Linked DNA regions of Homo sapiens: all the other regions are linked to region 3. The links come from fine-mapping of genetic effects on gene expression. A gene starts in region 3. Each other region holds a variant in brackets. All regions are shown on one strand. Distances are between the middles of the regions.

Evidence for each region.
Region 1: its variant is fine-mapped to the expression of SLC31A1 in whole blood (TOPMed, PIP above 0.99). The same link has a PIP of 0.9 or more in macrophages and macrophages after interferon gamma.
Region 2: its variant is fine-mapped to the expression of SLC31A1 in whole blood (INTERVAL, PIP above 0.99). The same link has a PIP of 0.9 or more in T cells and monocytes.

What each region holds. Positions count from the first base shown.
Region 1 is chr9:113,184,695-113,191,773 of GRCh38, forward strand. FKBP15 (FKBP prolyl isomerase family member 15) reads right to left here. Exons shown (of 28, transcript NM_015258.2): 12 at 5,777-5,884; 13 at 3,695-3,797; 14 at 3,099-3,205; 15 at 1,555-1,669; 16 at 1-110. Among named protein-coding and RNA genes, the nearest start is that of FKBP15, 33 kb to the right of the region's middle. RefSeq lists an enhancer at 2,841-4,040. The variant A/C (reference allele first, on the strand shown) is at 3,732.
Region 2 is chr9:113,259,547-113,266,625 of GRCh38, forward strand. SLC31A1 (solute carrier family 31 member 1) reads left to right here. Exons shown (of 5, transcript NM_001859.4): 5 at 726-4,946. The coding sequence ends at 927. Among named protein-coding and RNA genes, the nearest start is that of CDC26, 12 kb to the right of the region's middle. The variant A/C (reference allele first, on the strand shown) is at 4,156.
Region 3 is chr9:113,218,005-113,225,083 of GRCh38, forward strand. SLC31A1 (solute carrier family 31 member 1) reads left to right here and starts at 3,540. Exons shown (of 5, transcript NM_001859.4): 1 at 3,540-3,674. FKBP15 (FKBP prolyl isomerase family member 15) reads right to left here and starts at 3,273. Exons shown (of 28, transcript NM_015258.2): 1 at 3,187-3,273. The coding sequence starts at 3,239. RefSeq lists enhancers at 3,072-3,201, 3,312-3,421, 4,262-4,451.

The sequences.
Region 1 (7,079 bases), 33 kb before region 3:
CTTAGTCATGAGATGATCCATTTTATCAGCCACTTTGCTGACTGCCATTCGAATTTCAGTGTTATGTTGCCGGGCTTCAGTCATGAGAAATGAAGCCATATCACCTGATCCTAAACAGATACAAGCCAAAAAGAAACTTATGAAACTGGAGCAGAGGAAACTGTATGAAGAAAAGCTAGTAGCTCTTCCAGTAAAGAAAGAAATTAATACTTCCATACACTAGGAAATGCTATAGGTGACTTCACCCTGTCAGGAGAAGATATATGGGAGAGAGTAGAGGCAAAAGGGCTTCAAAGTAAACAATAACTAAGCCGTGTTCCTGCAAAATGCATCAAGGGCTACATCTGGTCCAAGGGCACAAATATGCCCACTTTGCACTGCCACAGCACCGGCAGCTCAGATTACTTTCCCGTTCATCCAACTGTATGCCAAGCATTGTACCAGGTACCAGGAATACAGCAGTAAACAAAACACGGCTTCTGCCCTTGGTGAGCTCTCAGTCTGGCTGGGAGACTGACATGTAAACAAATCATTACAAGAGAGTGTATTAAGTGCAAAACAATGGACCATATACTAGGTATAAAAGTAGCACAGAGAAAAGCACGATTAACTCTTTGGTGACACGCGTACACAGTTGTGTTTGTGGGAAGAGAGGAAAGAGGGACAGAGAATAGTCAGGGAAGGCTTCACAGAGGGAGATGACAGTTTTGATGGATGAAAAAGCGTATCCCAGATGGAGAAGGGCAGAGCTTCCAGATAAAGGCTGCATTCAGGAAATCCTGACCAGTCCAGAACCACAAATTATGTTGCAGGACATACTGGCTTCTTCCTACCACTGTCCTAATACCAAAGCTGATTACTAAACAGAAGACTAATAGCAGAACAAGGCAGGATTCCATCATAGCAGTTTACACTTTATCTTGGTTTGATTTTTTTACATTAGATACTCACATTTGTACATGCATACAAAATATCTGAAAAGTTACCCAAGTAACTGTTAACAACAGTTTCCCAAGGTCAGGGGGTTTATGGAGGGGAAGGACAGTAACTTCACTTTACACCCTTTTGTACTGCTTGACTTTTTTATAAAAGTCTCTTATTTTCATAATTTAAAAATGTTAACAGAGTAGCTTTCATTAGAGATACTAAACACCTATAGTATTCAACTTTCTCCCAATTTCCTCCAATGTTTTGCTCTTTTACTATTTTCTCTAAACTCTAGCTACTCTAACAGAGGAATTAAAAGGGCCAGGGGAGAAAATCCAAGGAAAAAAACACAGAATGTGGACACAAGGAAACATTGGGGGATGACGGAAATGTTCTAAAATAGGATTGTAGTGATGAATGCACAACTCTGCAAATTTACTAAAACACTTTTGAATTGCACATTTAAAATGAATGAATGTGTGGAATACATATTATATCTCAACAAAGCTGTTAAAAAAGAGAAGAAACAATGAGTAGAGAGCTGTTGGTGTGAAAATGAAGGAGGAGCAAGAAGAGGGAAAGCACAGCAAGAGCGGAAGATGAGAAACTGAGGGAATTACTCCCTACCTTGGAAATGGGGAGGCTGAGAGAGCGGTGCTGGGTACAAAGGCCGAACGGGCTGCAGCTGGGAGGTGACGGCAGATGCCTGGGGATAAGCGTAGGCTTGCATACCTGCATAGGGCTGAGAAACTGACGAGTTACCACTGGTTGATAAAACATTCATGTCTTTCTTTTTTGTTCACATTTTTCTTTGGTGGAATAAAGTGGATGAGCTGGGAGGAGACTCAAACTTACTGAAGCTAGAGATGGGTGAGATCTGGGTTTGGCAGTTGGTAAGGACTGCAGCAGGAGAGTTATCTATGTATCCCAGGGGAAACCAGTCACTAAAATCCTACCCAGAAACTGAAGAAAGTGTATCTTAGGTCACTACCCAGTCATCTGGTGAGATAATTAAGCAGGGATTCATTCCCCATTATCAGGCCTATTGTCTAAGAAGTTTTTAGATTAATAAACTCTGCTTAGCTTCCATTGAGTTTAAAGAAGAAGTGCTCACTGAGATTCCAAACCAAATCTGCCAATTTCCAAGGATGCCTCTCCCCTGCTAGATTCTGAAGCTAATCCACGAGACCAAGAGCTCTCATGTTCCTTTGAGTCTCGGTCACCTCAACTGTAAGAGGAAGATAATAATATCACTTCATAGGGCTGTTCTGTGGACTAAATGAAGTGAGATAGGTAAAGTTCTGAAAAGCTAGTAAGTTACAGGCCTGACAGATAGTAAGCGCTTAATAAACAGCAGCTTTTATTTTAATGAGGATGGTAATTCTTCCTTGAAATAAGGAAGTCTAGCTCATTTCCAGGGATAGATATAACTACGCATCCACTTAAAAAAAATTCTTAGTCTACAGCATAGTAATTCTCCATGGAGGAGAGGAGGGATGGGGAGAAAGAGGGCAACAGTGGGACTTTTTCCAGTTTCGAGACTCCCCATGTTAATGAGGCATAGCCTATCCACCATCATTCCCACACCTCCATTAAGCATCACAAGGAGTGAGCAGCTGTTCCCAGTGACAGTATGCCTTATCCACCAAGTGTGTTGAGGCAGAAGAAAGGGTCTGCTACCCCTGGCAAACAGGCTGCTGCCATTGTTTTCTGTGATAACAGGAAAAAGGCCTTCTTTAAGAAAAGTTTACTAGATAGCAGAGTCAAGCTACATTTTCCACATGGTTCCACTTTTAAACCATACCATTCTGCTGAATATACTGCAGAATGTTAGCCTGCCAACTTTTAGTAGAAAAGAATACAGAAGAACGCGAATATACACGCTTCAACTGGATATGTGTGAAAAGAAAAGGAAACAAACATTGATTGCATCTTTACTACGTTGTACTAGGGGCTCTACTTGTTCTTGCATTTAATCTTTATGACACTGGAACGTAGGTTATCCTTTGCCTGGTTTAGAGATGAGAAAGTGGTAACCAAGGAAGGGAAAAAAATTACAAACTCTGACTTTGGGGAACTGCTACTGTATGAAATGTACAGGAAGAAGAAAAGAGACTGACTAGAACCACAGCAAATTATAGGATATAATTAATACGGTTATAAAATGTTACCTGAAAGGATTGGGCATTTCCAGATACAGCTGAGTGGGAATCGAGAGATGACACTTGCATTAAGGCAGCAGAAGGTGCCTGGAGCCCAGTAACAGATGGCTGAGGTGCTAAGATAAAGGGAGACATTTTCACTGTTATCCACCCTTGCTTCTTGGTGTGAGTCTAGACTAGCACCTTACATACTATCATGCTTCAGACTCAACTATTTTCCTTGCCTAGTCTCCCTACACTCAGCTCTACTGCAATCTCAGGAATGAGCCAGTGGAAGGAAACTGGGTGCTCTCATGTGCTTCTGACTCAGCCCTAGGATCCCACCCGACAGGAAGTGCAGAACACACCCAGGGAGATGTCTCAATAGCTGAGTGCAGATTTCCAAAACTGACAGTGCAACACAGCAGAAGTCACAACCAGCAGCCAGGTCCATCTCTGGGTATGAAAATGCCTTACCCAGGGACAAACTGACAAGCGTCACACTCTTACATTTACACTTTAGTCCTCAGTACTGAAACAATGCAGCCTAACAGTTTAAGGAACAGTGACGATAATTTTCATGCTGACCCAGTTCAAGGCCACAGAGCCTCAGAGAGGTTCCTTACCCTGTGAGGTCATCTGTGGTAACGCTGGATGGGCCGG[A/C]TGAAGAGAGGGCTGGACGGACGGAGTCACCACAGGCTGCCCACCTCCTTGCAGAGTGTTCACATCCTGAAACAGGAACAAGCGTTTGGGTTACTCTGTACGGGGTCCCTCATTGAAGACTGAGGCTGACTGTCTGCCCTAAACCTGCTTCCAACACAGGATTTCTAGGCAAAGAAGAGGAAGGAAAGGTAAGCGGAAGGCCAAGAGTTGAGGGTGTGGGTTGTGGAGAAAAAGCACTCTGCTATGCAATAAAGTAAGAGTCCTTCTCCCTATAATCATATTGAATAAGTAAATATAGTTAATTTCCACAAATATTCTCAGAGGTTGATGTTCTATTGTCTGAAGCAGCTAAACTAACCACTCTTCAGAATGTATCATTTTCCAAGCCAGTAACTGCCTTAAGACAAATCTAATCTATTCCCACAAAAAAAGTGGTCTTTTGCAAGAAATAATCCAGCCTCTTCGCTTCTTACAAATCATCCCCATAGTCCTCAAGGTACTCAATGAAAATCAGATAACGTAGGATTCACTGCACCTGATTAACATGCTGTTTTTGGATAATATAGTTTTAGGATGTTTTTCCAACATTCTTTATTTTCATAAAACCAAAGCTTTTCATAAAATCAAAGCTATAACTCTAAACAAAGTTATTCTACCTCCTGCTTCATATAAGAAACAGAAAATCTTGAGGCACAATATACAGTGACTGTAATCTGCTATGCTATAGTTCAAAGACCAAAGTTTCAGACATTCTTTTACTTTAGAACTTCACCTTGTCCCCTTATATTCTCTTCTAGAAAAACATCCCAGTTTTAGATTTCTACAGCTCTTAACCAACCTAAATGTCTAATAACAGAGTGAAAGGAATTATAATAAAATGATATAATGGAACACTGGGTTTCCTTTAAACCACTTTATTTACTTAAATCATTTATGTTAATGTAAATGTTTATGATACAACATTAGGTTTAAAAATCAGGTTACAAAGCAATATATAAAGATGAATGCCCTTTTTGTTCAATATGTTTCTTTTCTATAATTTTAAATTATTCTAAAATGAATAAGTAGCACATAAAATTTTTAATAAAAATATTCTTATTTACACTGCATTTCCAGACCAGAAAAAAATAATCCTATAACAATAGGCCTCAGAAATCCTATCTTCCTTTAAGATGTTAAATCTACATAGAGCTTTTCCAAGAAATAAAACAAAAATGTAAAATATAAAGTATATTCCAGAAAAAATTTTTTCAAGACCATCGCCCTTTCCTTGTTTTCTATCAAAGTAAAAGAATACTAAAAATCAGTCTAAGTTATATATTTCACTTCAATTGAGAAAGGACGATTATATTCAATAAAGAACTAACCACTAGAGAAGAATTAAGTTAAAATTAAGTTACTTTATAGCATACACCAAATTCCAAATGGATTAAAAATTTAGATCTAATTATAAAATATTGATCAATATCTTTAAAAATACATGTGATATTTATAATCTGAAAGTGGAGAGGCTTTCTAAGCATAATGTCAAAAGCAAATAACAAGGGGAGAAAATTGACAGACTTGAATTCAATAAAATTATTGAACTTCTAAATAGAAAACAAACACAAGAATACCACATACAAAGTCAAAAGACATACTAGTTGGAGCTTTAGTGATAGGCAACATCAGCGAGAAGACCAACATTTCCCAAAAGAATCTAAACATTCGCTCAATAAATATGAATTGAACACCTGCTATGGATTGGGCATCATGCTGCCCAGAGAGTGATCTTTAGTAACAACAGAGATTCTAGTAAAGAAGGCTAAATTAACTACTGAAAACTGCCCAGTTCTTGTAAAAGATCTACAAAATTGCTTCCATCTCTCAGGGAAGTACTAATCACAGTAGAAACACATGTACCAATACCAATCTGTATCATTTTGCATATTAGCTCTCTAAATAATGATTCTGCCTTAGAGAAAAAACAATCACTCCAACCAAATGAAAAGAAAGATGATGGCGACATCTGTACTATTCATTCTAATACAGCCAGGGGGACATACTTCGATTTCTGAATCATTGGAATCCAGCTGTGGTGGAAGGATGGGCAGCATGGGCTGGCCCATTTTAGCCATCCGAGAGATCAACTTGGCTTTGACTGCATCGGGACTCTAAAAAGAGAGGAAAGTCACAAAAATCACTGTGATTAAAGCTCATCACCTTCAGGCAGCTCTATCCCTTTGGCTCTTGTATCAAATCCTTCAACAAATCCCCCTACCATATCTATTTAAAAACATTTCCTCTAGAAAATGAGAAAGATTTCTTGCATAGAAGTATACATGGATCACAATTAATAGCAGTAAAAATAATTCCCTGTATCTTTGGAATGGACAAAGTGGTTTCACATACATTGCCTCATTTCAATCAAGTCTCCCCAGCAGGCATAATTAGTCTCATTTTACAGATGAAAAATTAAAGTGAGATGTTAAGAAAGGGAGGCATTTTAGGTGACAGTACCCTCACTCAAAACCCTGAAGCAATTCGGTAGATAATTCAGAAGAGATCTGTGGAGAAAAGGAAACAGGAGCTCTTTGTTTTAACTTCAGGTTCACTTAACTATGACTTGGCATTAACTACCCATTAGACCCTGTGCTAGAAGCTTCCATTAACTGATCCAAAATTTCAGAATGGCAAGTAAGTACACCTGAAGGTGCACAATATGAGCTATTGGGTATAGAAGGAAATGATCATAACCTCCATTTTTATTATTATTACTTTTTTTTTTTTGAGATGGGTTCTCTATCACCCAGGTTGGAGTGCAGTGGCGTGATCTCGGCTCACTGCAACTTCCATTTCCCAGATTTAAGACGTCTTCCCACCCCAGCCTCCCAAGTAGCTGGGACCACAGGCGCTAATTTTTTGTATTTTTGGTCGAGAAAGGGCTTCGCCATGTTGCCCAGGCTGCATTTTTATTATTTTTAAGCTATCAGTGTAAGACACTGAGTTTGCTTACAGGGATTGGTGGTACTTTATGTACATAATTTGTCAATAAACCTATACTGGGAGTGTGTGCTTATTTTTTCGTAACTGATGATGTATCCAAAAAAAGTTGGATACATCAGGAAAGGACTAGTTATATAGACCTTATGCACACAATGGAATATTGTGATATGCAGATTAAAATGAGGAAGCTCTCTATACACCAACATGAAAAGATTCTGCATTATATATATATATAATATAAATTATATATATATAGTTATATGGAAAAGGCAAGGTGCATTACATACAGAGTATGCTACTTTGTGTGTGTGAAAGGAGGGAGGAATAAAAAATACATTTCTACTTGTGTGCACCTGCATAAAG
Region 2 (7,079 bases), 42 kb after region 3:
CAACCCTCAATTCTATTTTTTTTTCTTTTTTTCTTTCTTTTTTTTTTTTTTTTCTGGAGACAGGGTCTCCCTCTATTGCCCAGGCTGAAGTGCAGTGGCACTATCTTGGCTCACTGCAATCTCTGCCTTCCAGACTCAAGTGATCCTCCCACCTCAGCCTCCTAAGTAGCTGGAACTACAGGCATGAGCCACCACACCCAGCTAATTTTTTTTATTTTTTGTAGAGACAAGGTTTCGCCATGTTGCCCAGGCTGGTCTGAAACTCCTGAGCTCAAGCAATCAGCCCACCTCGGCCTCCCAAAGTGCTGGGATTAAAGGCATTAGCCACCACCCCCAGCCTCTGTTTCTGTTTTTGTAGAATGTAAACTTTGCAAAGGTGGGAAGCCTAAAAATATTCGGGCAGATGAGCGTGAGAGGGTTTACGGCTTCCCTTTCAGGATCTAAGGTGGAGGTAAGTCGGGATTACTCCTCGTCCTTTTCTCCTCCTCCGGAAAAGGGTTCCTTCTACTGGAGGAACCACAGCCATATCTGGCCAATGTTTATAAGCCTGACAGCCCTGTGCTGTTTCATTTCCATGGACCAATCAAAGAACATTCAAGTACCCATGAGTTGCCAGAGTGGCTGTCCAGTTCCAGCTGAGCTCATGGCAAGAACTCTTCCCTCTTTCTCCTGATCTGCAGAACTCCTAGGAGTCCCTGATTGTTGTGTCCCTGTTTACTCTCCAGGCAACAGATGCTGAGCTTTCCTCACCTCCTGCAAACAGTGCTGCACATCATCCAGGTGGTCATAAGCTACTTCCTCATGCTCATCTTCATGACCTACAACGGGTACCTCTGCATTGCAGTAGCAGCAGGGGCCGGTACAGGATACTTCCTCTTCAGCTGGAAGAAGGCAGTGGTAGTGGATATCACAGAGCATTGCCATTGACATCAAACTCTATGGCGTGGCCTTATCGATTGCAGTGGGAAGTTGTTGAAGACTTGAAGACGTGATTCCTGCTCCAATCATCCCTTCTTGCTCCTCTTTGTGCACGTACACACACACACACACACACACACACACACACCCCTGCTCAACAGAGGTTTAGTTTACAGTCTCTGAACTAAAGTAGTAACCTCCCAAATTGTTTTTTCTAATAAGCTGAGATTCCCATTTCTCTTAAGGAGAAGCCACCCATGAGATGTCTTTTCCTTCTCCATCATCTTAGAGCCAAGTTATATGTTCTTGTCTAATCCATGTAGCTTTTTGTTCAATGACTTGATCATCTGCTTCCTTTTTGAATTTTTAACAGATAGTAAGTAAATTTGGTGGTTTTTTCCCCTGGGTCAGTGATGGAAAGGGGTTAACTTCAGCCAGGATTGATGGCAGCTGAGGGAAATTCTTGCCCAACTAAACCCAGAACTCAAACTTAACATTAGAAAATAAGGTCCAGGGCCGGACACAGTGGCCCATGCCTGTAATCCCAGCACTTTGGGGGGCCAAGGCAGGCTGGATCACCTGAGGACAGGAGTTCGAGACCAGTCTGGCCAACATGGGGAAACCCCGTCTCTACTAAAAATACAAAAATTAGCCGGGCATGGTGGTGGGCGCCTGTAATCCCAGCTACTCAGAAGGCTGAGGCAGGAGAATCACTTGAACCTAGGAGGCGGAGGTTGCAGTGAGCCAAGATGGCGCCATTGCACTCCAGCCTGGGTGACAAGAGTGAAACTCCATCTCAAAAAAAAAGAAAAGAAGGTCCAGCTTTTGGATTCAATGAGTGGGAAATACATTGTGCCTTTCTCTAGATGTGATACGTTATACCAAAATCTTTGTAGTGTGCAGAGCGGTGGTTTGAGACTAAATACAGGCTTAGAACTTGCAGAGTGTGTATTCTTGGATGGCTGATGCATCGACTTGCATTCCCACTTAACACTTTGATTAGCATGAACTTGCCAATCAAAAAATGACAATCAATTTGAGAAAATAGAAATAGATATTTTTAAATAAAACCATTCACAGTTTACTTTGTCTTGATACCTTGGTTTGTCCCAGCTGAAGTGAAGCAAGAGAGTTTGAATTAATTTTTCCATTATAATGTTTTCGCATGTCTGCCTCTAAAACTGTGATTTTCAAGCTTTAGCGTGCATCAGAATCACCTGTAGGGCTTGTTAAAACACTAATTGCTGGGCCTCAACCCAAAAGCCCCCAAAGTGGCACTTCTGAGTTCCTGCTGATGTTACAAGGGACCACACTTTTGAGAATCTGTGCTTTAAGCTAAGGAAATATTGCCTGGTGGGTTGGCTGCCTGGTATTGGGCATGGAAATTTGAATTGCTGATTGGTAGATGGTGTGTCTGGACTTAACTCACGTAGTAAATACTGCTGATCAATACCTAATCATTCCACATTTATTGAGCTCCACCTGTGTGTATGTGTACCCAAGCACACATGTGTGAAGGGCTATAGCCAAAGTATTTTTACTAGCCTGTATGAAATCACTAGTCCTTATTTTTAAAGGTCTATGGTTTCTTGGAAGTAGTTTGATTGTTGAGAGAGACCTTTGATCTGCAGTGTAAATCTACCAGTCATGGGCCAGAAGGGCAAAAGCCCAGCTTTCTCTTTGGAAAGACTCAGGCTGTGGTTTGTTGATGGCCAGGTTTTCCTCAGGCTCCAACAACTGTGCTTATACCAAGCAGATCCTCATCCTCCATATAATCATCTTTGTTATTCGTGGGGGTTTAATTACATTACAAGTGGCCAAAACCCCTGTTCTCAGTGAAGAACCACATTGGATTTGTATTCTGTTCAGTTGTAGTCTACACTGCAGTCTTATTCCTGGTTCAAACTACCTCTTTAAATTGATTTGTCTTGTGCTGGTCTGTTAAATCCTGCCCTCCTTGGTGCTAGATCCAGTTGTGCCTCAGGGCAGAGGAAACAAAACACAGCTATCCTGTTGGCCTGTGTTGTGGTTTTGAAGTTTGTACTTTCTCTGTGGGTGCCAGTTAAATATTGGAGAGCAAGGAATGTGGACTTGTATGGCTTTGAACCAAGAGAGGGTTATGAGCCTACTGGATTGAGGTTAAAATCCAAGAACCAACATTTAGAGCTTTGTGCTTTTCTCTCATTCCATCACTTTGTAATGATGATACTTAACATGAGCAGGGTGAATGACAGGTACTGACGAAGTCCAACACAAAGGTATAATACAGCCTGTTGTCTAAAGCCAAGGAGTCATAAAACCATGAGAAATAAATAGGAATCAATAGTTAGTAGTGACATTGGTGCTCTCTAGAAATCTCAGCATGAGCTGCTATAGAATACCCTCCCAGCAACAAAACCTAATCAGTAAGGCCAGCTAGACCCAATGGCTCATGCCTGTAATCCCAACACTTTGGGAGGCCAAGGTGGGAGGATGGCTTGTGTCCAGAAGTTCGAGACCAGCCTGGACAACATAGTGAGATCCTATCTCTATAAAAAATCAAAAATTAGCCAGGCATGGTGGTGCATACCTATAGTCCTGGCTATTTGGGAGGCTGAGGCAGGAGGATTGCTTTAGCCCTGGAGGTCGAGGCTGCAGTAAGCCATGATTGCGCCACTGCACTCAGCCCGGGTGACAAAGCAAGACCCTGTCTCAGAAAAAAAGAAAATTCAAGGCCAGTTAAGACAAAATGCTATGACTTTGAAATTCACAGAAAGAAATAACAGTTTAGATTAGGTCTTCAGGTATTCAGGATAGAGATAATCTCCTGAAAAACCTGAATTTCAGAGATTCTTAGACTGGCTGCCAAAGGATGAAGCTAGTGAAGGAGAAAAAGCTTAAATTCCATCTTGAGCTCTTGGATTGTGATAATACAATGATTTCATTAACTTTTCATTTCTGTATACCTGTTCATTTGGAATTTAATGCTTGACTTCTTTGTTCATTTTGGATCTAAACTTCTCTTTTCTTCCTTCCCCATTCACATCTATTAGAAGACTGCATCACCATTTCTTTGGCCCCCTTACTCTGTTGTCCTTTCCCTTTTCTTTCAGTTTTTTTAATCGCATGTCTAGTATATTAAGTCTCCATAGCCCTCCTGATGCAGTAGACAGTGCTATGCTGTGGATATAATACCAACCAGAAATTGGCATTTATAAACCTGTTAAGAGACTTTAAGCATGCTTCAAGAGGCAGTTG[A/C]CCCACTGGAATTTCTATAAGGCTGGTACCCTTCCCAGAGTTACAGAATCTTAGGTGCCGTCTCTAGTCTGTGAGGGAGGAACTCCCAGCATCCCCATTGCCCACAAATGGAATCCTCACTGTATCCACTAGGAGATTAGAAATTAAGGTTTCTTCACTACTTCTATGGTAGGGTTGTCTGAAATTCCCTTTCAGGCTGTGGGTACTGGTCTTGGGTTCTAGTCATAAGGGGTTCCTTATAAGGAGCAGGCGGAGGGGAGTACACTTTCATGTGATTTAATTTTGATCCTGCCCTCTCCAGCTGCTCCTTCAAAAGATACATCAAAAGATAGAAACTCTGGGCTGGGCACAGTGGCTCACACACTTTGGGAGGCCAAGCGGGGGTGCAGATCACCTGAGGTCAGGAGTTTGAGACCAGCCTGGCCAATGTGGTGAAACCCCATCTCTACTAAAAATACAAAAATTAGCTGGGCGTGGTGGTGCATGCCTGTAATCCCAGCTACTCGGGAGGCTGAGGCAGGAGAATCGCTTGAACCCAGGAGGCGGAGGTTGCAGTGAGCCAAGATGGCGCCATTGCACTCCAGCCTGGGCGACAAGAGCAAAACTCCGTCTCAAAAAAAAAAAAAAGATACAAAGTCTGCATTTGATATAATGCCTTAATTACTGGGTCTACAATTAATGTTGACTGTTTTAGATTGTAAGCTCCTGGAGAGCAGTATTGCTGTAGTAGGAATGTTTTAACAGTGTCATATGAAAAAGAACAAAATAAATATTTTGATTTTGTGATTCTATGCAAGTCTTTCTGCCCAGAGTGATAATGCAATAAGCTAGTCTTTTCATAGTCTGCATAGAGTCTGGCCATTACCATCAGTTTTTAAGATGTCCATATTGTGGCCGGGCGCGGTGGCTCACGCCTGGTAATCCCAGCACTTTGGGAGGCTGAGGCAGGTGGATCATGAGGTCAGGAGATCGAGACCATCCTGGCTAACACGGTGAAACCCGTCTCTACTAAAAAAAATATTAAAAAATTAGCCAGGCCTGGTGGTGGGCGCCTGTAGTCCCAGCTACTTGGGAGGCTGAGGCAGGAGAATGGTGTGAACCCGGAAGTCAGAGGTTGCAGTGAGCCAAGATTGCACCTGGGCAACACAGCGAGACTCCGTCTCAAAAAAAAAAAAAAAAAAAGATGTCCGTATTTTAGGTGGTATGATCCTTTTAGGTTTTCATCTCACTCTCCCCCTACTCGACTTAAAATGACATGCCTAGTACATGCCAGAAGATCCATGTGACCTTCTGCACAGGAGACAGGGTCTTCATGAAGCCACAAGTATTTCAGTATACTGAGGATTCCTCAGTTTAAAAGCCAACTTTTGTCACATCATAATCCCTTCCCTGTGTCTGCTGTTAGGCAAGAGGCTCTGAGCTGGGCCTATAAGAAGTTCACCGCCCAACCTTGAGATGCACAGTGACCCTGCCAGTCCCTTTGGTAATGCCAAAATGCTGACGTTACTTGCTCTTCCCACTGGCCCCCAGTGGGCATCTTGCCATCACCACCATTCCTAGTCTCTTCCGAGTGTAGTGTCATGAACATGGACTTAGAGGAGTCAATGAGTTTGGATTCTGGTTCCATCACCTACTAGCAGTATGACCTTAGGAAGTTAGTCTAATGATCCCTAAGCCTTAGTTTTCTTATTTAGAGATGGAGTCTCACTCCGTCACCTAGGCTGGAGTGCAGTGGTACAGTCTCGGCTCACTGCCACCTCCATCTCCTGGGTTCAAGTGATTCTCCTGCCTCAGCCTCCCAAGTAGCTGGGGCTACAGGCACACACCATCATGTCTGGCTAATTTTTGTATTTTTAGTAGAGATGAGTTTTTGCCATGTTGGCCAGGCTAGTCTTGAACTCCTGAGCTCAGGTGATCCGCCCGTCTCGGCCTCCCAAAGTGCTGGGATTGGGAAAGGTGTGAGCCACTGTGCCCGGCCATAATACCTGTTTGAATTAGGCACCTAGCACAAAATAGGTATTCGAGCCTTAGTATTTTTTTTATTATCTACAATTGTTGTTACTCCAGCTTTCAGAATGAAAAGTAACACTCTTCTTGATAAGGTTAATAGGTTAGTATTTTTCTTTTTTTGTTGTTGTTTTTGTTTTTGAGACGGAGTTTTGCCCTTGTTGCCCAGACTCGAGTGCAATGGTGCAATCTCAGCTCACTGCAACCTCTGCCTCCTGGGTTCAAGCACCTCCACCTCAGCCTCCCGAGTAGCTAGGATTGCAGGCATGCACCACCACGCCCGGCTAATTTTGTATTTTTAGTAGAGACAGGGTTTCTCCATGTTGGTCAGGCTGGTCTCAAACTCTGGACCTCAGGTTATCTGCCCACCTCAGCCTCCCAAAGTGCTGGGATTACAGGCATGAGCCACCATGCCCGGCCCTTCTTTTTTTTTTTTTTTTAATTTTATAGAGTCAGGGTTTCCCTGTGTTGCCCAGGCTGGTCTAACTCCTGGACTCAAGCAATCCTCCTGCCTCAGCCTCCCGAAGTGCTGGGATTACAGGCATGAGCCACCACACCTGTCCCTCTCCCCCTCGTATTACTCAGACTTAAACTACCCCAAAAAGGCTAAAGTCCTGCTAAGAGTCTCCGTAGAACTGATGATTCAAGAGGCTCTTATGATCACAGCTGGTGATTCCCTGTGTTGAATTAGTGAAAACAGGCCAGGCACAGTAATCCCAGCACTTTGAGAGGACTGCTTAATGTCAGGAGCTCAAGCCCAGCTTGGGCAACACAGATGCCTGTCTCTACATAAAACAATAAAAATTTTTAAAAAAAATTTTTTTTTAATGCCCAGAACAATAGGGCATGATTCAAAATTATCCTCCGAGCTGCCTCTCTGGTTCTTTCTGGGAAAAACACTTAGGCAAGTTGAGAAA
Region 3 (7,079 bases):
TACATTAAAAAAAAATGTTAGACAATGCATTTAGTCGCCAAGGACCTCACCTCACCTCAGTTTTATATTTTCTTTCTCATCAAAAACAAAAACACATGCATTTATACTGTATCAATGTATTTTAATAAACAGAGATTCTTTTTGTTGGTAAAGTATTAATACTTTTTTAAACAAACTGACATCAAACATCCATTTCAATAATAACAACAATAGCACATAGGCAGGTCTGGTAGAATCTGCCTACCTGATTTCAGATCCAGGCTCTATTACTTTCTAGCTGCATGATCTTGGGCAATTTACCTCTCTGAGCCTTTCCCATTTGTAAAACGGATATAATAATTAATAGTACCTCATAGAGAGGAGTAAATACAATTATATATATATATATATATATATATATATATATATACATTTCTCATTTGTAAAATGGGCATAGTAGGTAAAATTATTTCATAGAGTAGAAGGGAGGAATAAATACAATAATGTCTATGTATTTCTTAGAACAGTGTATGGCATTAAGTAAGCACAGAGTACGTATTTATATACTTGTGAACACATCCTATTATCTCAAAATGTGGTTCAACTCAGATACCCCTGCAAGGGTGAAAGCATGCTTGATTGACACGGAAGTTGACCTGCAACCATAAACTGGTATTAGCATTAACATTAAAACTACAGAACTGGCAAAGGTCTCAAAGTTTATCTAGGTCAAACCTCATTATTGAATAGGTTGGGGTATGGAGGGACAAGGATGGAAGATAATCTGTCCAAAGTCACATTCCTAACTGGGGATAGAATCAACATTTGAATCTAGGCTTTTTCCTATCTTTTACAGAACTCAAAATGCTTTCTGATGATCGGTTAATTTATCTTTCTACCATCTTTAGACTGGTGATTTATCATTACTATGCTAATCGGATCTGCCTACACATACCTTTATAATCTAAAACAAATATATACATAATTGGCCCCTTAAAAATGCTTTGTGATTATTATTCCTGGATTGATTTTATTCTACTACTAAAATAAAAGTTTCTTAGGGGCAGAAACTGTGCCTTATTCCTATCTGGATTAGCTGAAGCCAAGTACTATTAGTTCATTACTATTACTTCCCACAACGGTGAGGAATGGGCTAAAACAAACTAACAAACAAAAACAAGGCTCCTGATTACTACTTCTAGATTAATAGTAAACTCTAAGAGGCCTAGAAACTCAGAAGGCAGATTATCAGATACTCCTACTTCTATTAGGCTTGAATATCCTTCATGAAATCAAGCAAATCATGTGTTTAAATCAAGAGACTTGGAACTTAAGCAAGTATACTTACAGTAATATATGGCTATAAAAGAGGAAGTGAAAAGTAGCTGCAGTATTCACTGTCATATGTTCTACTTCCTTAGAGAAAACCAAAAAAGGAATAGCTAAATCAGAGAATTGTGGTGAAACTTTCTGTATTCTCAGTGTTAAATTTGATTTGGTTTTCCTGATAACTGTGGGGAACAAAAATAAACTATAACTTTCCTCAGTATGTCTTTTACCATCAAATTAGCTGTTGTCTATGTCTAGGAGCACAGTCACATGCCTAGAATTCAAGTGTCTCAGATCCTTGAGAAGCCTGCTCAGGAAAAAAGAATAGTTGAGCCACCAAGAATTTATCTCTGGCCAGGAATCTGGAAAAGAGCACATGGCTGTCATTACCTATCCCATAATTTTCAGTCAGCTTGGACTGATTGTTGCATGAAAATTGGGAGCCCTAACATTACAGACTTCTCCCAAATACTTTCACATAGTGAAGAATGCGAATTTAAAGTGGAATAGGGAAAAAAGGAACAAAAGCACAGCTTAACTGTAAAATAACTGAGAAACGGAAAGAACTCAAAGTGGAACTAAGTGAATGCAGGCCATCTAAAGACGGGGTAGGAAGGGAACAGAGTGGTGAGAGTGAAAAAGACTAAAAGGTAGGTAATATAGAGCTAGTCAGTGTAAATCAAAAATTCCTACTTAAGGACAAAAGAAGGCCAGTGTCATTTTATGGTCATTCATCTATTAACTCATTTGTTTATGTATTGTCTATGACTACTCTCACCCTACAAGGCAGAACTGAGTATTTGTGGTTGCAATAGAAACCACATGGCCCAACAGATCTGGAAGCAACTTAAGGGCAGGCACAGCAGTTTAATCATTTTTGTAACCTCTTAGCATTTAGCAGAATAAGGGGCATATGTGGTGCATTTGTCATTTTTCCAGTACATTCTTCAGCACGCACAAAATTTGTTAAGCATATGTTCAAAGAAAAGCTCTGCAATGATCAGAGCTTGGTAGCTCACAAGTTTGGAGGAAGTCAAGCTGTCCACTGGCACAACACAATGGAAAAGGCTAAACTGACTACTAAAAGAGACAAAACCCTTCCTCTCTTTAAAGATTTCTATTCCAGGCTGGTATATATTAATATAATGCTTGGGGAAACTGGAGAATGACAGAAGTCTGTTACGTTGGTTTTAAGCTTTAAGCTTTACAAAGTGCAATTTCGCAGCTATTATTCATTCAACAGCCACTTCCTGAGCACTCACTATGTGCTAGGTACCATGCTGCATGCTAGACAGAAATGAACACCATAAGCAGTCCCTGTCCGGTGAGGACTCATAATCTAATAGGTGCGGGGTATAAGAATAGAGGCAAACACACCTAGCTGCAGGAATAAGGAAGAGAAAGCAATTCATTCTGCCTGAGGTTGCAGAAGGAAAAGCATCCAAAACGTGACATCCGAGCTGGGCCTTGAAGAATGCTAGAGCTGACCCACCAAGGCCTGGTTCTAAAGTGTCTTCGCCTTCTCCATGGAGAAAAGAAGTCTCACATCAGCCCCAGCTGACTCCTATAAAAATTCTGAGGCAGGAAGTCTCATCAGCAATCATTCCCATTTCACCGGAGAAATTGTGACCCAGAATGCAAAAGGCAAACCCAGGGCTATCTTCCCGCCAAGAGAGATGCCGGGTCCCGAACCTCAGATCGGCAGGGTCAGCACAGTTGCAAGTTCTGCCCAGATTCTGAGAGGTGTAGAGCACCGGAATGTGGCAAGGGTCTCCCCCCGGAAGTTGGGAAAAGGCCTGAGAAGAGATCGACCCCCCTCCAACAATCCGCCGGTATCTCTCAGCCACGCCCTCCAGCGCATACTTCTCAGTCACTCACCCGCCGCTCGGCGAGAGGAAATCGGTGTCGTCCTCGTCCCCCGCACCGAACATTGCGTTGGCTTTCACCGGGTTGCGGGGAGGAAGCTGGGTATTCCCAGAGTCCCAGGGCCTGTCACCGCCGACGTCGTAAAATGCCGCGGCGGCGTGCTGCTTTCCGGCAGGGCGAACTCCAGCACGGTCTCTGGACCGAAAGTAGACTGGGCTCTGGAGAAGGTGGGGCAAAGGCAAATGAGAGGCTCGCGCGGGCACGAGCGCCGAGTGACGTCAGGCCTCTCCAGCCCGCAGCGGGGCGGAGCTTCACAGCCCCTTGCAGGGATTGGTCGGTAATGCTAGGGGGCGGGAGGGGGCGGGAAATCCTCGGCCTCGGTGGCGGTGGTGGACACGTCGAGCCGGGTAGAAGTGGAGGGGCCGTTCGAAGAGTCGTGAGGGGGTGACGGGTTAAGATTCGGAGAGAGAGGTGCTAGTGGCTGGACTTGACCTGGAAAGGTAAGGCTTCTCTCGGCCCCTCTTTCGCACCCCTGTGCATGGGTACCGTCCTTTTCCCAGCGGGACAAGGACCTTCCTCGCCGCTTTCCTCAGCTCCGCGGAAGGAGAAAGAGCTCGGGACTGGAGGGTTAAAGACTGGGGCTTCGGCCCGGCCCCTGCAGTGGCATAGCCAGAGTGACCTTGGGCCGGGGTGCTCGGTGCCTCAGTTTCCCCGTGTATGCAACCGGCCATTTGTCCAGTTCTTCCATGTGCCTGCTGGTCCAGAAGATTTTAGAGCTCAGAGGCCATGGATTTCAATCCCGGCCTCCTCGTAATCTCAGAATTTACAGATAGGGAGACGAAGGAACTAAGCACCCGGGTGACTAGTCCGAGGTCACAAAGAGTAAAGGGCAGACTGAGACTGGATTCCTCGTCCTTTGATTCAGGACATAGTGAGCTAGTGGGTGAACAAGAACCTTATCAGCCCTTAAGCACTGTGTGCCCTTACAGAGTGACTATTGAAAGACTGTAGCATACACCTCGAGGAAAGTCCCCTTTCTAGAGTCCACCTGTATTCTACGCGGATGAGGTGCAGAAGAGCTAAGATATTCTGGCGGTGGGTGATGGAAAGGAGGATACTTTGGAGGCAGACACATCCCCACCCCAACTTTGGCGTGGGTTTCCCTGGGTCTTCCTGCGACAGCCCTAAATCAACATCAATTGTGGCGGACTCCTCTGCCTCCAGTTTCCACCCTATCTGTATCTTACATAAGTATTTCTTTGGTTAACCTGGTATCATTCTCGAAACAATCCTGGGGTAGTCCTGGCTTAGACAAGGTGTGGCTAAGGAGATAGTGTCCCAGCGTAGCGTCCACAGACTCACTGGAGTTCTTGGGCTTCCCCTCACAGTCAGGTTGGTACTACAGGTGTCCCTTACGTGAATGTTTCAATCTGTCAGTATGAAATTGAAATGAAATGATTGGTAGCTCCCTCCCAGAGAACTTTGCACCTCCTGGCAAAGATGTTAAAGCAGCGAAGGCTCACAGTTGGAATGATGCAACTGGAATCTAAGCACTAGAACCGGAACTGGAACTAGAATCTAAGGACTAGCACTAGAACTGTTGCAGTAGCTCTGTTTAGTGTGTGAACTTGGCTACCTCTTGGAGGTGTTGGGGGAGTAACTGGATTAAGTACCATGGCACTTTCTAATCCCTCTCCCCAACACCGGTCACTGTGATTGCAGCACTGAAACATCTAAATGTTTAACAGAAAGAGCTTGCTAGCCCCTGGCTTACATTATCTATGGTATTTTTAACATGGAATGAATACTTAAAGTCACTTGCAAAGCAGTCTCACTGCAGAATCTTTCTAGGTGTTTATGACATGTCCTTCCAGCCTTTTCTTTAAAAAAAAAAAATGGCCAAGGGAATATTTGAACTCTTATCTTGTATTCTTGGGTGGAGCTGATTTTATCCTGGATGTTTAAGTAGCTTTTGTAGGTACTCAGGAATCCTAAAATCAATAGCCTTTTTGGTGATTGGAACATCACGAACATGCATACGCAGATTATCACTGTAGAAACACAGCTGCTGATTCTCATTAGCAGTATGAGGAGGAGGAAGATGATGGTGAGTCTTGCCAGGCTTTGAACTGCAGGACTGGGTGCACCTAAAAAAAAAAAAAAAGAAAGCCACTGTCTTCCTAAATTCGTGTATCTTCAGATTGGTAATACTGGACTAGGAATCAGGAAATCTGAATTCCTGTCCCAGCCCTTATAACTCACTCTGAGTTTGGGCCAGGCTCCCTAAGCACTGTAAAATGAGTGGATTAGACCTGGACTTCTACTGAGTAACTGCTGGGGATACAAAGGTAAGTAAGGCACAACCTTGATCTCAAGTTTAAAGTAAGCATTTTTGTTTATTTGTTTTGCTTAAGTATACAACTTTTAGAATACTCATAAAATATATTGTCAACCCCCAGAAGATTGGCCAGGAAGCAGCAATTTTTTTTCTCCACCCTCCACTCCCCTTACTCCCTCAGGGAAGCAGCAATTTTAATAATTATTTTCAAATTATCAGCAATTTTGCAACAGAGATGACAGTCTTTATATACGAGTATACCCATACTAATCTGTAATGATGCATGCATTTTAAAATTAGTAGTTTAAAGTTATAACCAAGTTATATCAGGCATAATGATAGGAATATGAATTAAATGCAGGTTCTAGGGGATCTATAACATTCCGTTCACTCAGTCACTGAAAGCAGACTTAGGGCCATTAGTTGGTTAACTGAAGAAGTAAGTTAAAGCAGGGAATCATACAGATAATAGTTATATGCATAACATTTTAACGAACACATAAACATTCTTTTGCCATTCTTTTAACATAAGGCCTCAGCCTTTTCTTGGAGTGTAGGACCCTGTTGCCTGTTTTTATAAGTAAAGCTTTATTAGAACACAGCCTTTCTCATTTGTTTATGTATTGTCTATGACTCCTCTTACCCTCCAAGGCAGAATTGAATATTTGTGATTGCAACAGAAACCACATGGCCTGCAACATCTAAAATGTTTACTTTTGGCCCTTTATAGAAAGAGCTTGCTAGCCCCTGGCCTACGTTATCTATGGTATTTTTAACATGGAATGAATACTTAAAGTCACTTGCAAAGCAGTCTCACTGCAGAATCTTTCTAGGTGTTTATGAAATGTCCTTCCAGACTTTTCTGTTGTCTCCCACACCTAACAGCAAGTTTATGTGTTATCTGTATGCTCACTTTTTTTTTTTTTTTTGAGACAGAGTTTCGCTCTTGTTGCCCAGGCTTGAATGCAATGGCACAATCTCGGCTCACCACAACCTCCACCTCCCGGGTTCAAGCGATTCTCCAGCCTCACCCTCCCGAGTAGCTGGGATTACAGGCATGTGCCACCATGCCCGGCTAATTTTGTATTTTTAGTAGAGACGGGGTTTCTCCATGTTGGTCAGGCTGGTCTGGAACTCCCGACCTCAGGTGATCCACCCGCCTTGGCCTCCCAAAGTGCTAGGATTAGAGGCGTGGGCCAACGCACCCGGCCTTGTGTGCTCACTTTTATCTGGTCTTTCGAAAGCATTCAGTGTGGTGTTTTAGAAATAACTACTAGAGAGTCTATGTAGTACAGTAGTTAAGTACTTGAGCTCTGGAGCCAAATTGCTTTGCCACTTATTAGTTGTATAGGCCATAGACAAGTTACTCAGTTTTTGCCTTTGTAAAACAGGCATAATGGTAGTATCCATTTCTAGGTTTCTTGTGAATATTATAGGAGTTAATTCATGTAAAGCATTTAGAACAGTGCCTGGCAGGTAGTAAGTACTCAGTGTTAATTGCTGCTGTCATTTTTCTCTTCTCATTTATACTTCATTGCTTTACATAGTATTTACGTACTTTCAGTAA